Homo sapiens: one gene and its partners. The protein of the gene in region 1 purifies or fractionates together with the protein of each later gene. This does not show direct contact. Each region holds a gene or a part of one and is shown on either strand. Other genes may lie near its edges.

Region 1 (3,500 bases):
CAGGACCAGCTCCCGACAAGCCCAATGTTTATGATTTCAAAACCACATATGACCAGATGTACAATGATCTTCTTAGGAAAGACAAAGAACTGTATCCCAGCGGGTTGCCCTTTAAAAACCCCCCGTGTGGTCCTCCCTGGAAGGTGTTACGTGTGGCTCGGGCACAGGAGGCGTGTCACCCTGTGCAGTGCACACACTGGCTCCTCTGTCTTTGCGAGAGCTTGGTTTCTATTCCTGGTGCACGTCGGATCGTCCACGGGTTAGTTCCAGTGCCACCCATGGCAGTAGGCGTGGTGAGGCGCACAGACACGGTGTGGGGTTCACCCTGACGTGGTTCAGCAGAGGGTCGTGACATAGCGTAGACCAGGGATGCTTAGGTGAGGAGGTGGAACCCACAAAATCCCATTGCTTTTCACACTGCAGGGCTGCCCCGTTATTTCCTTTGCAGGTTGGTGTGCGTGCGTGTGTGCGTGCGTGCCTGATACACATGGAGCCGGGCTGCTTCACACATCTGGTGAGGTCGTTAGAAGGTCAGATAAAGAAGAGGGCGGAGCTTGCTAACCAAGCTGTTAGAAGAAATAATGGGAGAGAACATTCCTTCATTTCAGGAGGACACAGAGCAGGCTAGGTCTGCCGCGAAGACTCCTATAGAGAGAAGAGTATTCTTAAACTAGATTCTGATGGACGCAACACCAGTTGCATAATGGTTATGACAATCAGTGCCCGGGTTTTTGACCAGGCATTTCATGGTCACCCCCACGCTAATGGAAAGTTTCTGGATCTTATTTTGTTATAGTGAGTGATTTGTAGTTTTCAGAACGGAGGCCAGGCCAAACGTATTCCAAATGAAAAGAGAATAGGTGTCAAATGCTAAACCTTTTATCTTCGTGTTGGCACTGTTGCCATCCCCGCCCTCTCCCGACATCCCCGCCCTTGACCAGCATCTCTGGCCTTGCCCAGCATTGTCTATGTATTGGCACTCTTGCCATCCCCGCCCTTTCCCAGCAGAGTCTCACTGTGTCACCCCGGCTGGAGTGCAGTGGCGAGATCTTGGCTCACTGCAGACTCACTGCAACATCCACCTCCCGGGTTCCAGTGATTCTCCTGCTTCAGCCTCCTGGGTAGCTGGGATTACAGGCACGCGCCACCACACCTGGCTAATTTTTGTATTTTTAGTAGTCACAGGGTTTCACCATGTTGGCCAGGCTGGTCTTAAACTCCTGACTTCAGGTGATCCACCCTCCTCGTCCTCCCAAAGTGCTGGGATTACAGGCGTGAGCCACCATGCTCAGCCCTACTCTTGTATTTTTTTTTTTTTTTTTTTTTGAGATGGAGTCAGAGTCTCACCCTGTTGCCCAAGGTGGAGTGTAGCGGCTTGATCTCAGCTCACTGCAACCTCCCCCTCCCAAGTTCAAGCGATTCTCTGCCTCAGCCTCCCGAATAGCTGGGATTACAGGCATCCGCTGTCATGCCTGGCTAATTTTTGTATTTTTAGTAGAGACGGGGGTTTCACCATCTTGACCAAACTGGTCTTGAACTCTTGACCTCGTGATCCAGCTGCCTCGGCCTCTCAGAGTGTTGGGATTACAGGCGTGAGCCACCATGCCTGGCCTCTTGGAATATTTAATAAGCTAAAAAATTCTTATACACAGGTAGATTAATTAGGTAGCCAGGAGTGGCCCCTGAAAGTATGTCTGGCAAAACCTAGAACTGCATCCTAGCCATCACTGTACCTTCTGCCCTCCCTGCTGTCTCCTCTGCCAGTTACAGTTAAAAGGTTGTGGGTGAGGACGCTGGGCAGAGTCCCAGGCGTCTGCTGTCAGCTCCCCAGCCCGGCCTGCCTGCCGAGCCATCTGGGCGTCCCACGGTGGAGAGTGTGGTGCTTGTGACGCGGTGGTGCTGGGAGCCATCCTGGTGGCAGATGTGGGCTCTCACTGCAAGTCAGTGTAAGTCCCCAGGGACTGTCAGCAGCACGTCCTGCTGCCCCTCTCTCTGCAGAAGCCCTGGTAACCTGCGTTTGGAAAAATCTCTAAGGATTTCTGAGGAGCTGTCAGGCCATGTCCTTGTCCACCCTGTGTGGGGCACGGCTTCGACATGGCTCTGCTCCCGTCGTGGGCTGAGAAGGAGCAGGTGGGGCTGTGCCTTGGAAAGGAGGCCCTCCCGACATGCCTTTGTGCGAGGTCCCTGTCCATGCTGTCTCCATCCCGGAGCCTTACGGCGATGGGTGGCCACAGAGCCTATTCCAAGAGTCTGGTTTAGGGCTGGGTCTTCCCATCTTCACCTCTGAGTCTTAGGCGATGCGTGACCACGCAGCCCCTTCCAGGAGTCTGGTTTAGGGCTGGGTCTTCCCATCTTCACCTCTGAGTCTTAGGCGGTGCATGACCACGCAGCCCCTTCCCGGAGTCTGGTTTAGGGCTGCGTGCTCAAGAGTCTGGTTTGGGGCTGGGTCTTCCCATCGCCCTGGAGGAGGCTTTTGTCTCATCTCATGATTCACATTAAACTCTGTGCCATGAAGCTTAGCCTGACATCCTGTTTTTGACAATTACTCTTCAGTTAGCACTGTTTATTTTTAAGTTCTTGTATATTCAGTAAGAGAAAGAAAAGCAGAGAGTGACGCACATCCTCACACTCCCTTGATTGGTGTAAGCTCAGCCCCTTCATGTCAGCCCACTGTGACCTCCTGGGTTCCAGACCTGGGAAGTACTTGCCACGTTCTGCAAGGACTGAGTCCAGCTTCAGCAGTCTCATCCGGAAGGACTTGGTATAGGCAGAGGATGAGCCTGTCTCTGGTCATTCTAAAAGAAGGAGCTGAGCCCAGTGTCCCAGAATTCGGAAGCTCCTCCTTTACAGAGGGACTGTAGGGGTTGGTGATCTCCCAGGAAGCATCGGCCCAGAAGAACCCCGCGTGCGTGTGTGTGCTCTTGGTGTGTGGTGGGGGGAAGGAGTGGCAGCAGGGGTGGCGCTGGGACACTGTCAGCCACGGGCTCTGCTTTGGGGACCTCGTGTGGGAAAGGCATTGCCTGTGGTGGCCCCTCAGGAGGCTCTAGGAGGAGCGTGCCTTCATTACCTTATTTCACTCGGGGGGCGTCTTTGCCCCCTAGGTGGGGGCAGAAGGTGCAGAATGGGAAGCCTGCCACTTAGCTAAAGCTCTTGCACATGATGCCCTTGGCCTGGAGAGGAGTGAAGTCCCCAGGCAGTTCCCTGTGGACACTGGCACGATGCCGGGTGGGGCCTCAGGGGTGTTGAGATGTGCAGGTCGGGAGGACCCCGATAACGTTTCCTGGTTAGTGATGGGTGCAGGGGGGCCGCGGGAAGTGACTGTTACAAGTGAGAGCCCGAAAGCAAATCTGCCCCACAGCAGCCGGTGCGTTGGCAGAAGTCATCGCCGTAAACTGCAGTGGAAGCAAGACGGGGTTCAAGATGCGGCCCAAAGATAAGACGCAGCACTTGGTCGAGTGTTCACAGCGTCAAGACAAAGGACGGGCCGGCGCGGTGACTCA
Region 2 (2,199 bases), on another chromosome or scaffold:
GATTGCTAAACAAATGACTTGTGTAACTCAGAAACACTCTTTGACAAAAACTGACTTTAGTTCAGTCCCTGGTTGTCTTACACAAAGTCACTTGTCTACTTCTCTGCCTCCCAGTGGCCACGGCATTGAGACTGCTGTCTCACCCACTTTGGTTTGGTAAAGCCCTAGAAGTATTTTCAGTGTCCAGAACAAAGCAGCAGACATGGAAGATCTTTATGTGCAAGTCACTTGATTTTAGCTCTGTGTAGAAATTCTTCCATTCCACTTGATTCATACTTTTCTTTTTCTCACAGCTCCAGGTTTACACCCTGTACCTGGTGGAGTGTTCCCAGTCCCTCCTGCAGCTGTTGTTTTAATGAAACTTCTCCCTCCTCCTATCTGTTTCCAGGTTTGTTCACTTATTTTCATGGTAGATACTGGCTCTGTGGGTCATAGTAATTGTGTATAAAGTTACTACTACTTTAACTTGTCAGATTACTGGGATTAAAATTTATTCATGTCAAAAATAGGGTCCTTTTGTACAAGTGGATGAACTGATGGAAATTTTCCGAAGATGCAAGATACCAAATAGTAAGTAACAGAAGCTCCATTTCAGAGTGTCATTCCACGTTGTTGTCTCATAGGCAGTAGAGATTATTATTCTCTGCCACTGAAGTTTTCGAAACCAGCCAGCCAATTTGAAGTGCAGTGAAACCCAGGAGTTACCCAAACCCTCTTTGGCAGAGAAAGGCTTATTCACATTGAATTCCACTAAGTAAAATGTCATAAAACTTTATCTTTTCTATTCATGTGAACATGCACTATCAGGCTTGGCTTATGAAAATTATTAGTTTTAACAGCAGCTTTTGTCTTTTTCTTTAATTATTTAGTATCAGTAGTACTATCCCATGTTTTGCTAAAATAGTAGGCTATGAAATAAAGTATCCACAGTTGAACATACATACCCTTTCATAGTGGAATATGTTTTTACGTTTTGTTGTTTTGTTTTAATAGCTGTTGAGGAAGCTGTGAGGATCATTACTGGTGGGGCCCCAGAGCTAGCTGTAGAAGGCAACGGCCCCGTGGAAAGTAATGCAGTACTCACCAAGGCCGTCAAAAGGCCCAACGAGGATTCAGATGAAGATGAAGAAAAGGGAGCCGTTGTCCCCCCTGTTCATGACATTTACAGAGCACGGCAGCAGAAGCGGATTCGGTAGGGTTTTAAACGCCTCTGCAGAAAACTCCTGTCCAGGATTCCTTTTGCCTCAAGTGGTATGTTTAAAAGAGACAACGCTTTGTTACAAGGTTCTTGGAAACAAAGTTGTATTGTCATTGGTGCCTCTATCACATGGTTCTTGAGAAAAAACAAACCAACCTGTGTGAATTTTAGAATACGGAACAGACCTATGCTCTAAGCAAAATTAGGTTTTCAAAAATGTGAGAACAGTACAAAGTGGCAGAACCACATTTTGTTCCCTCTTCAAGGGTGTCTTGTATGTGCCGCTTGAAGATTTGTGAGTTTTTCAACAGTTTTATTTTAAAAACTGGATGGCTTATGATTGTAAAGCATTTTATCACATTTTCTGAAAACAATTGTTCTTGGTTTGCTTATGTAGAGTCCTGCCTTATTGTTTGTTTTTATTTATGGCAGAATGTATGAAATCCGTTTTGTAGTTTCAAATTTTAAAAGTCCTTTAAAAAATAAAAGGATTCAGAAACATCATGCTTCCTCTGCTTCTTTCAGATTTTATTTACAATAACTACTTATGTTATTTATCCAATACCATTTAAAAATAAATGTCAGGACAAGGAAAAGTCATCTTGTATTTACTGAATGTATTAATCACATACTCTTTCCTGGTCTGTCTTTTTTGGTGCTAACTAAAAACATTTTTAAGAGGCAAATTAAACATTTTAGAAATCCTCAAATATGAATGCATTTGCTCCCCAGTAAATCTGAGGCAGATTAAGATCCTGTTAATACTTTTGTCTCTCTTGAAAGCAACCTAAGTGTGGAAATTCCTTTAACCACCTGCTGTCTTGTTCTCACATAGAGTATCTCTTATCTAAAATACTTGGGACCAGAAGTGTTCAGGATTTTGGATTTGTTCAGATTTCAGAATATTTGCATCATACTTACCAGTTCACCATCCCTAATACAAGAGTACAAATTCCACAAAACTCCACTAAGCATTTTCTTTGTGCATCATGTTGGCACCG
Region 3 (3,500 bases), on another chromosome or scaffold:
ATATATTTTTTTTTTTTTTGAGGCGGAGTCTTGCTCTGTCACCCAGGCTGACTGCAACTCCGCCTCCCGGGTTCAAGCAGCTCTCTGCTTCAGCCTCCTGAGTAACTGGGATTACAGGTGCCCACCACCACACCCGGCTAATTTTTGTATTTTTAGTAGAGATGGGGTTTCACCGTCTTGGCCGGGCTGGTCTTGAACTCCTGACTTCATGATACACCCGCCTCGGCCTCCCAAAGTGCTGGGATTACAGGCGCGAGCCACTGCACCCGGCCGACTTACTTATATTTTTAAGTATCGTGTAACTTATTAAAAATAAGTTAGATATTTTGATGGAATTGGAAAGGAGGGGTAAGCTGAAAAAAGTGTGTATTTTTAATTAGAAGAACACTAATGAAGCATGTGTCCATAGAAAATAGATGACGTGCCCTTTCCAAATGTATTGGAAAGCAGGAGAAATGGCCTTTTGTTAGTTTTGTTTGTTTGCTTGTTGTTTGGGGTGTTTTTTGGTTTGTTTGTTTGTTTGTTTGTTTGGATGAAGTCTTGCTCTGTTGCCTAGGCTGGAGTGCAGTGGCGCCAATCTCAGCTCACTGCAGCTTCTGCCTCCTGGGTTAAAGCAATTCTCCTGCCTCAGCCTTCCGGGTAGCTGGGATTACAGGCACGTGCCACCACGCCCAGCTAATTTTTGTATTTGTAGTAGAGACAGGTTTTCACCATGTTGGCCAGGCTGTTCTCAAACTCCTGACCTCAGGTGATCTGCCCGCCTCGGCCTCCCAAAGTGCTAGGATTACAGGCATGAGCCACTGCACCTGGCCTTGCTTGTTGTTTTTTAAATACGTTTTACTGTGGTAAAATATCTAACATAAAATTTGCAGTTTTAACCATTTTTAAGTGTACAAACCAGTGGCATTAATTATATTCACAGTGTTGTACAACCATCACCACTGTCTATTTTCACAGCTTTTCATCACTCCAAGCAGAAACTCTGTACCGTTACACAGTAACTCCCCATTCCCTTCCGCCAACCCTGGTAATCTCAAATCTACTTTCTGTTTCTATGAATTTGACTATTCTAGGTATTTCATATAAGAGGAATCATAATGCCTATGATGTTTTCAAGGTTCATCATGTTGTGGCATGTATCAGCACTTCATGCCGAAGTCATGGTCCGTTATATGTAGACCACATGTTGTTTATCCATTCACCTGTGGGTGGACACTCGGGTTGTGTCACTTTACAGCAAATGTGAAGTGGTATCTCGTTGTGGTTTTTATTTTCATTTCTCTAATGACTAATGATGTTGAGCACCTTTTCATGCAGTCTTTTGTTCGTTTTTGAGTTTTTTCTAGCATGATAGGCCTCACAGGTATTTGCCACTGGCCCTTAATGAGCAGATTATTTGGTCAAGAAAAATCACTCTCCTGTCTATAGCATCACAGTGTGTAGGGTTTAGTCACAGAGTAGGCTCCTCCCAGGTGTTTCTTATTGTCTGTGTGCATGAACACTCCCCCAGATTTCCAAGCCAGGGAGGAAAAGCCGAATTGCTCTTTTGTGTGGTGTCACCACCTCATCCTCAGCCCCATTTCATCCTGTCACTCTCCTGGTTCTACTTCTGCTGACAGTTTAAGTTCCTGGGTTGAACTTCATGCTCATTTTCTTGTGATAACCAGCTCCAGCAAAAGTATAGCTGCAGGATAAAATTGCAATACTAGTAGTGTTGGTGGTAGTAATGAATACTAGCTAACATTGATTATTTACCATGTGCCGGACACTGTATATGTGTTTTATATGAACTGACTTGCTTAATCTTCATGACCGACAGCTGTTCTGCAGATGAGACAACTGAGGTGTGAAATCACTTGGTCAAGGTTACACAGCTTAAATAAGCAGCAGCACCAGGATTCTGTTCAGGCAGCCAGGCCCAGGCCCTTCCCCAGCAAGCAGTAAGCCCCTGCCACGTGCTGGTGCTGGCTATGCCCAGCCACAAGCCATCTACCACATGTGAGAGGCTAAGAACAATCTATCTTGGCCGGGCTGCAGTCCCAGCACTTTGGGAGGCCGATGTGGGTGGATCACTTGAGGCCAGGAGTTCGAGACCAGCCTGGCCAACATAGTGAAACCCCATCTCTACTAAAAGTATAAAAATTAGGCAGGGCACGGTGGCTCATGCCTGTAATCCCAGCATTTTGGGAGGCCAAGGCGAGCAGATCACGAGGTCAGGAGATGGAGACCATCCTGGCTAACACGGTGAAACCCCGTCTCTACTAAAAATACAAAAAAATTAGACGGGTGTGGTGGCAGGTGCCTGTAGTCCCAGCTACTCGGGAGGCCGAGGCAGGAGAATGGCGTGAACCTGGGAGGCGGAGCTTGCAGTGAGCCGAGATCACGCCACTAGACTCTAGCCTGGGCGACGGAGCGAGACTCGGTCTCAAAAAAAAAAAAAAAAAAAAGTATAAAAATTAGGTAGGCATGGTGGTTCACACCTGTATCCCAGCTACTTGGAGGCTGAGGCATGAGAATCCCTTGAACCCTCGAGGCAGAGGCTGCAGTGAGCCAAGATCACGACACTGCACTCCAGCCTGGGTGGCAGAGTAAGACTGTCTCAAAAAAAAAAGAACAATCTGTCTTGTAAGATAGAAGTTACAAAAGTGAATGGAAAGGGACTGGTAGCTAATGCTGTTGTTGTAAATACCCTCTAAAATATTCCATTTGGGGCTGAGCACAGTGGCTCATGCCTGTAATCGTACCACTCTGCAAGGCTGAGGTGGAAAGACTGCCCAGAAGTTTGAGACCAGCCTAGACAACATAGTGAGACCTTGTCTCTACAAGAATAAAATAAAACTAGCCAAGCATGGTGGCTCATGCCTGTAGTCCCAGCTACCTGGGTGGCTAAGGTGGGAGGATTGTATAAGCCTGGGAGATTGAGGCCACGGTGAGCCAAGATTATGCCACTGCACTCCAACCTGGGCAACAGAGCAAGACTCTCTTTAAATAAAGAAATATATAAAGTAATAAAATGTTCCATTTGGTTCTGAAATATTTTATTAGGATAGGTACAGTGGCTCACGCCTATAATCCTAGCATTTTGGGAGGCCAAGATGGGCAGATCACTTGAGCCCAGGAGTTCAAGACCACCTTGGGCAATATGTGAGACCGTGTCTCTACAAAAAATACAAATATTAGCCGGGCATGGTGGCGTGTGCCTGTAGTCCCAGCTACGTGGGAGGCTGAGGCAGGAGGATTGCTTGATCCCTGGAGGTTGAGGCTGCAGTGAGCCATGATCACATCACTGGACTCCAGCCTGCGCAACAGAGTGAGACCCTGTCTCCAAAAATATATCAATATATGAGGTAGGCCAGGCACAGTGGCTCAAGCCTGTAATCCCAGCACTTTGGGAGGCCAAGGTGGGTGTCAAGAGTTCGAGACCAGCCTGACCAACATGGTAAAACCCCGTCTCTACTAAAAATACAAAAAATTAGCCAGGCATAGTGGCGTGTACCTAT
Region 4 (3,324 bases), about 170 Mb from region 1:
ACATCCATCACCAGCCAGCTATGTGACTCAGAGTAAGTCACACCTCTGGGTTTCAATTTCTCTAGAACAAAATGTGAAAATTAGATTAGATGAGGCTTAAGTACCTAGCAGCTCTAAATGTTCTTGTATTTGAGGTAAGGTCAGAAAAGTTATGCTCCCATAGAATTTATCCTATAGAGCCCCATTAGGTGAATGAATGGGTTTAGGGATGTAAACTTGGGTGGTTGGGGTCAGGGGTATATGCTACTTAAATTAAAATGAAACATTAAAATTAACTTCTAAAAACTGAAATTTAAGTACTTGCCATCAAACTAGAAATTTTGCTTTCTCGTGACGTATATTCTCGTAACATGTAGGTCTTGTCAGCCTGTATTTAAAAATAAACAGTTGCAATAAATTTAATTATACTGATTTACAAAATCCTTTGTATTAAAAACAGACTGCCTACATTTTAGGATAGGTTGTCAAAACAGCATGCAGTCTAAAGAGAACATCTTGTTCTACACTGAGATAACTCCTATTTAACTCAAATTGGATTATTATTTCCAATTTCTATACATTATAATGATGATACACATATGTAAACAGATTTTATAATTACCATGTAAGAGAAACATAGCAAAGATTTTACTTTGAAAGAATATGTATATAAATGAATAATGTATATAATGAATTTGTATAAATGAAATATGCAAGAGATTTTAAAATTACTTCAAGTTTGAAACATCTTTCCCTTAAGCTATCTTATCATTTACCTACGTAATTGTGCTACTTTTATGTTGCAAAACATGCTTTAAAATTTTTATTCTTTCCCATTCCATAAAGCTCTTACCAAATAGCTTACTTAAAATCACCTTTTTTGTACTTCAATTTTTCCCATTTAAGATTTTTGGTTAGGTTTTAGAACAGCAACTTATTATAATTTACTTCTTGAAACACTTTTCAATAAAAGAAAAGCCACAAAATTATATGCCTTTAAGGTTTCACTCTCTTGTATTAATAAAAACAGATTAATAGTCACTGTAGGAAAAAAATCAAATAATATAAAAGTATAAATCATCAGTGATCACAGCTTATAGGTAACACTATCTTTAATACTTAGAAATCTCTACAGAGAATCTTATGTAAGTAGATTCATACTTGCTTTTGAAAGTTCAACACTGAAATGAATATCTTTCAAAATTACTTAAATATCAATCTCTGCAACCAATTTTAATAATTATATATTTTATACCATATGGATATAAACAATTTAATTAATGGCCATTTAATGGGCATTAAGTTCCTACTTTCCTTCCTTTCTGCTATTATAAACAATACTACTGTGAATATTCATGTACGTATAACTCTGAGTAATTGCCCAATTAATATTAGTAGATTATTATATAAAAGAATCTTTTTAGGATAAATTCCTAAAATTCAATATTGTTTAATTAAAACAGTATTTTTAACATTTAGGCCAGGAGCGGTGTGGCTCACGCCTATAATCCCAGCACTTTGGGAGGCCGAGGCAATTGGATCACTTGAGGTCAGGAGTTCAAGACCGGCCTGGCCAACATGGTGAAACCCCATCACTCCATTAAAAACAACAACAACAAAATTGCCAGGTGTGGTGGTGGGCGCCTGTAATCCCAGCTACTAGGGAGGCTGAGACATGAGAATTGCTTGAACTCAGGAAGCAGAGGTTGCAGTGAGCCAAGATCGCGCCACTGCATTCCAGCCTGGGCAACAGAGCAAGACTCCATCCATCTCAAATAAATAAATAAAAATAAAATTTAGATTTCTCTTTCTGGGGAACAAAAATATAGCTTATGTTTAGTACTTTGCCACCACTTTTAAAAGAAAAAAGGTCTATCACTATAACCATGTTATTTCAAGAAAAAATCCCTAAGTGAAGGGTTTAGAAAGCATCAATCCAATCCTATCCTACTAGGTTCAAATTCCAATTCTGCCACCTACTAACTGTATAACTTAGGTATGTTTCTTTTTTTTTTTTTTCTTTGAGACAGGGTCTTGCTCTGTCACTGCAGCCTCAACCTTCACCAGCTCAAGCAATCCTCCCACCTCAGCCTCCCAAGTAGCAGCTAGGACTACAAGTCCGTGCCACCATGCCTGGCTAATTTTTTGTATTTTTAGTAGAGACAGGGTTTCACCATGTTGGCCAGGCTGGTCTCGAACTCCTGATCTCAGGTGATCTACCCACCTCGGCCTCCCAAAGTGCCGGGATTACAGGCGTGAGCTACGGCGCCCGGCCTTGGCCTGATTAATATATTAATGTACTTCCTGTATATTAATGTACATCAGGACATTACATAAACAACATATACTGTAAACAAAGGTAAGAGTTAAAGGACAGTTTTCTTAAACATGGATTAAGTACATACAAAATTGTCTCAAAAGACCCCTCCCCAATTAGGGAGTGTCTTTTAGAAAACATTTTGAGTCACCAGAACCTTTGTAAAAGGAAATGTAATGTTTTGATGATAGCCTGCAGTCAACAGTGAATGTGAAACACTCAGACTTAACAGTTAGAAAGACTGCCATATAATATAGATTGTTTAATTTCAAATTCTCAGATTGACAATTAAACAACACAAACAAGCCCAGTATCAATTAGTATATTCATTAAACAACAATAAATACCTCATGGTAAAGTCTCGTGTCATTCATTCTGATAAGCACCCCATCAATTCTCAAGAAAAACCGCAACAGCAGGAAAAAGCTAGAAGGCATTACTCTCTGGAAAAAAAAAAAAAGGTACATTAATATTTTAATAAAAATTAAACATTTTATTACTTTGCTGAAAGAAAAAATTTGAAAACAAAAAACAAAAAAACCCTGGAATAAGGCTGAATTCACAGTTTATAAAAATCTCTCAACTAGAAGCTCTTTGTCCTAGCTCCAACTAGCCTCAAAACCTTGTGCAAACTATTTAACATCATAGTTTCGGTTTCCTAAAATATTTTTTCTAGGTGAGGAGATATTGAGGTTTAAAAGACTTAAAAACATACCCAAGTAATGTAAAAATTATAATGTTTATTTCAAAAAATGGCAGGTACTGATAGTAAATGTCAACACCAATAAAACCAAAATGAAAGAACAACCTAGTTCTTTGTCACTACTCACCTATTCACTTTACATAAAACAAAGCAACAGACCTTACACAGAATGCTCTAATTCAGTGCAACCTGTAGGCACTATTACATATTGCTAAAGACCTGGTTTATCAGAACACTATAACACATTCTTAACATCTTTCATCTGTGGCACATCTACAAATTCCTCTGCTTTCCAAGTATAACTACTAATGATAGGCAGAATCAG

Evidence for each region. Proteins that work in one complex are often made in the same cells at the same time.
Region 2: the proteins of SSU72 (region 1) and CSTF3 purify together in Homo sapiens (affinity purification with mass spectrometry; one large-scale study listed by BioGRID and IntAct). This does not show direct contact.
Region 3: the proteins of SSU72 (region 1) and CPSF3 purify together in Homo sapiens (affinity purification with mass spectrometry; one large-scale study listed by BioGRID and IntAct). This does not show direct contact.
Region 4: the proteins of SSU72 (region 1) and TIPRL fractionate together in Homo sapiens (co-fractionation; one large-scale study listed by BioGRID). This does not show direct contact.

The regions. Positions count from the first base shown.
Region 1 is NC_000001.11:1,561,364-1,564,863, reverse strand, and holds part of SSU72 (RNA polymerase II subunit A C-terminal domain phosphatase SSU72), read left to right. Parts: coding exon 1-91; intron 92-3,500. UniProt on the Homo sapiens protein: Protein phosphatase that catalyzes the dephosphorylation of the C-terminal domain of RNA polymerase II. Plays a role in RNA processing and termination. Plays a role in pre-mRNA polyadenylation via its interaction with SYMPK.
Region 2 is NC_000011.10:33,084,084-33,086,282, reverse strand, and holds the end of CSTF3 (cleavage stimulation factor subunit 3), read left to right. Parts: intron 1-293; coding exon 294-388; intron 389-509; coding exon 510-570; intron 571-993; coding exon 994-1,196; 3' UTR 1,197-1,699; downstream 1,700-2,199. UniProt on the Homo sapiens protein: One of the multiple factors required for polyadenylation and 3'-end cleavage of mammalian pre-mRNAs.
Region 3 is NC_000002.12:9,444,154-9,447,653, forward strand, and holds part of CPSF3 (cleavage and polyadenylation specificity factor subunit 3), read left to right. Parts: intron 1-3,500. UniProt on the Homo sapiens protein: Component of the cleavage and polyadenylation specificity factor (CPSF) complex that plays a key role in pre-mRNA 3'-end formation, recognizing the AAUAAA signal sequence and interacting with poly(A) polymerase and other factors to bring about cleavage and poly(A) addition.
Region 4 is NC_000001.11:168,195,962-168,199,285, reverse strand, and holds part of TIPRL (TIP41-like protein), read right to left. Parts: intron 2,740-3,324; coding exon 2,644-2,739; intron 368-2,643; coding exon 305-367; intron 1-304. UniProt on the Homo sapiens protein: May be a allosteric regulator of serine/threonine-protein phosphatase 2A (PP2A). Isoform 1 inhibits catalytic activity of the PP2A(D) core complex in vitro. The PP2A(C):TIPRL complex does not show phosphatase activity.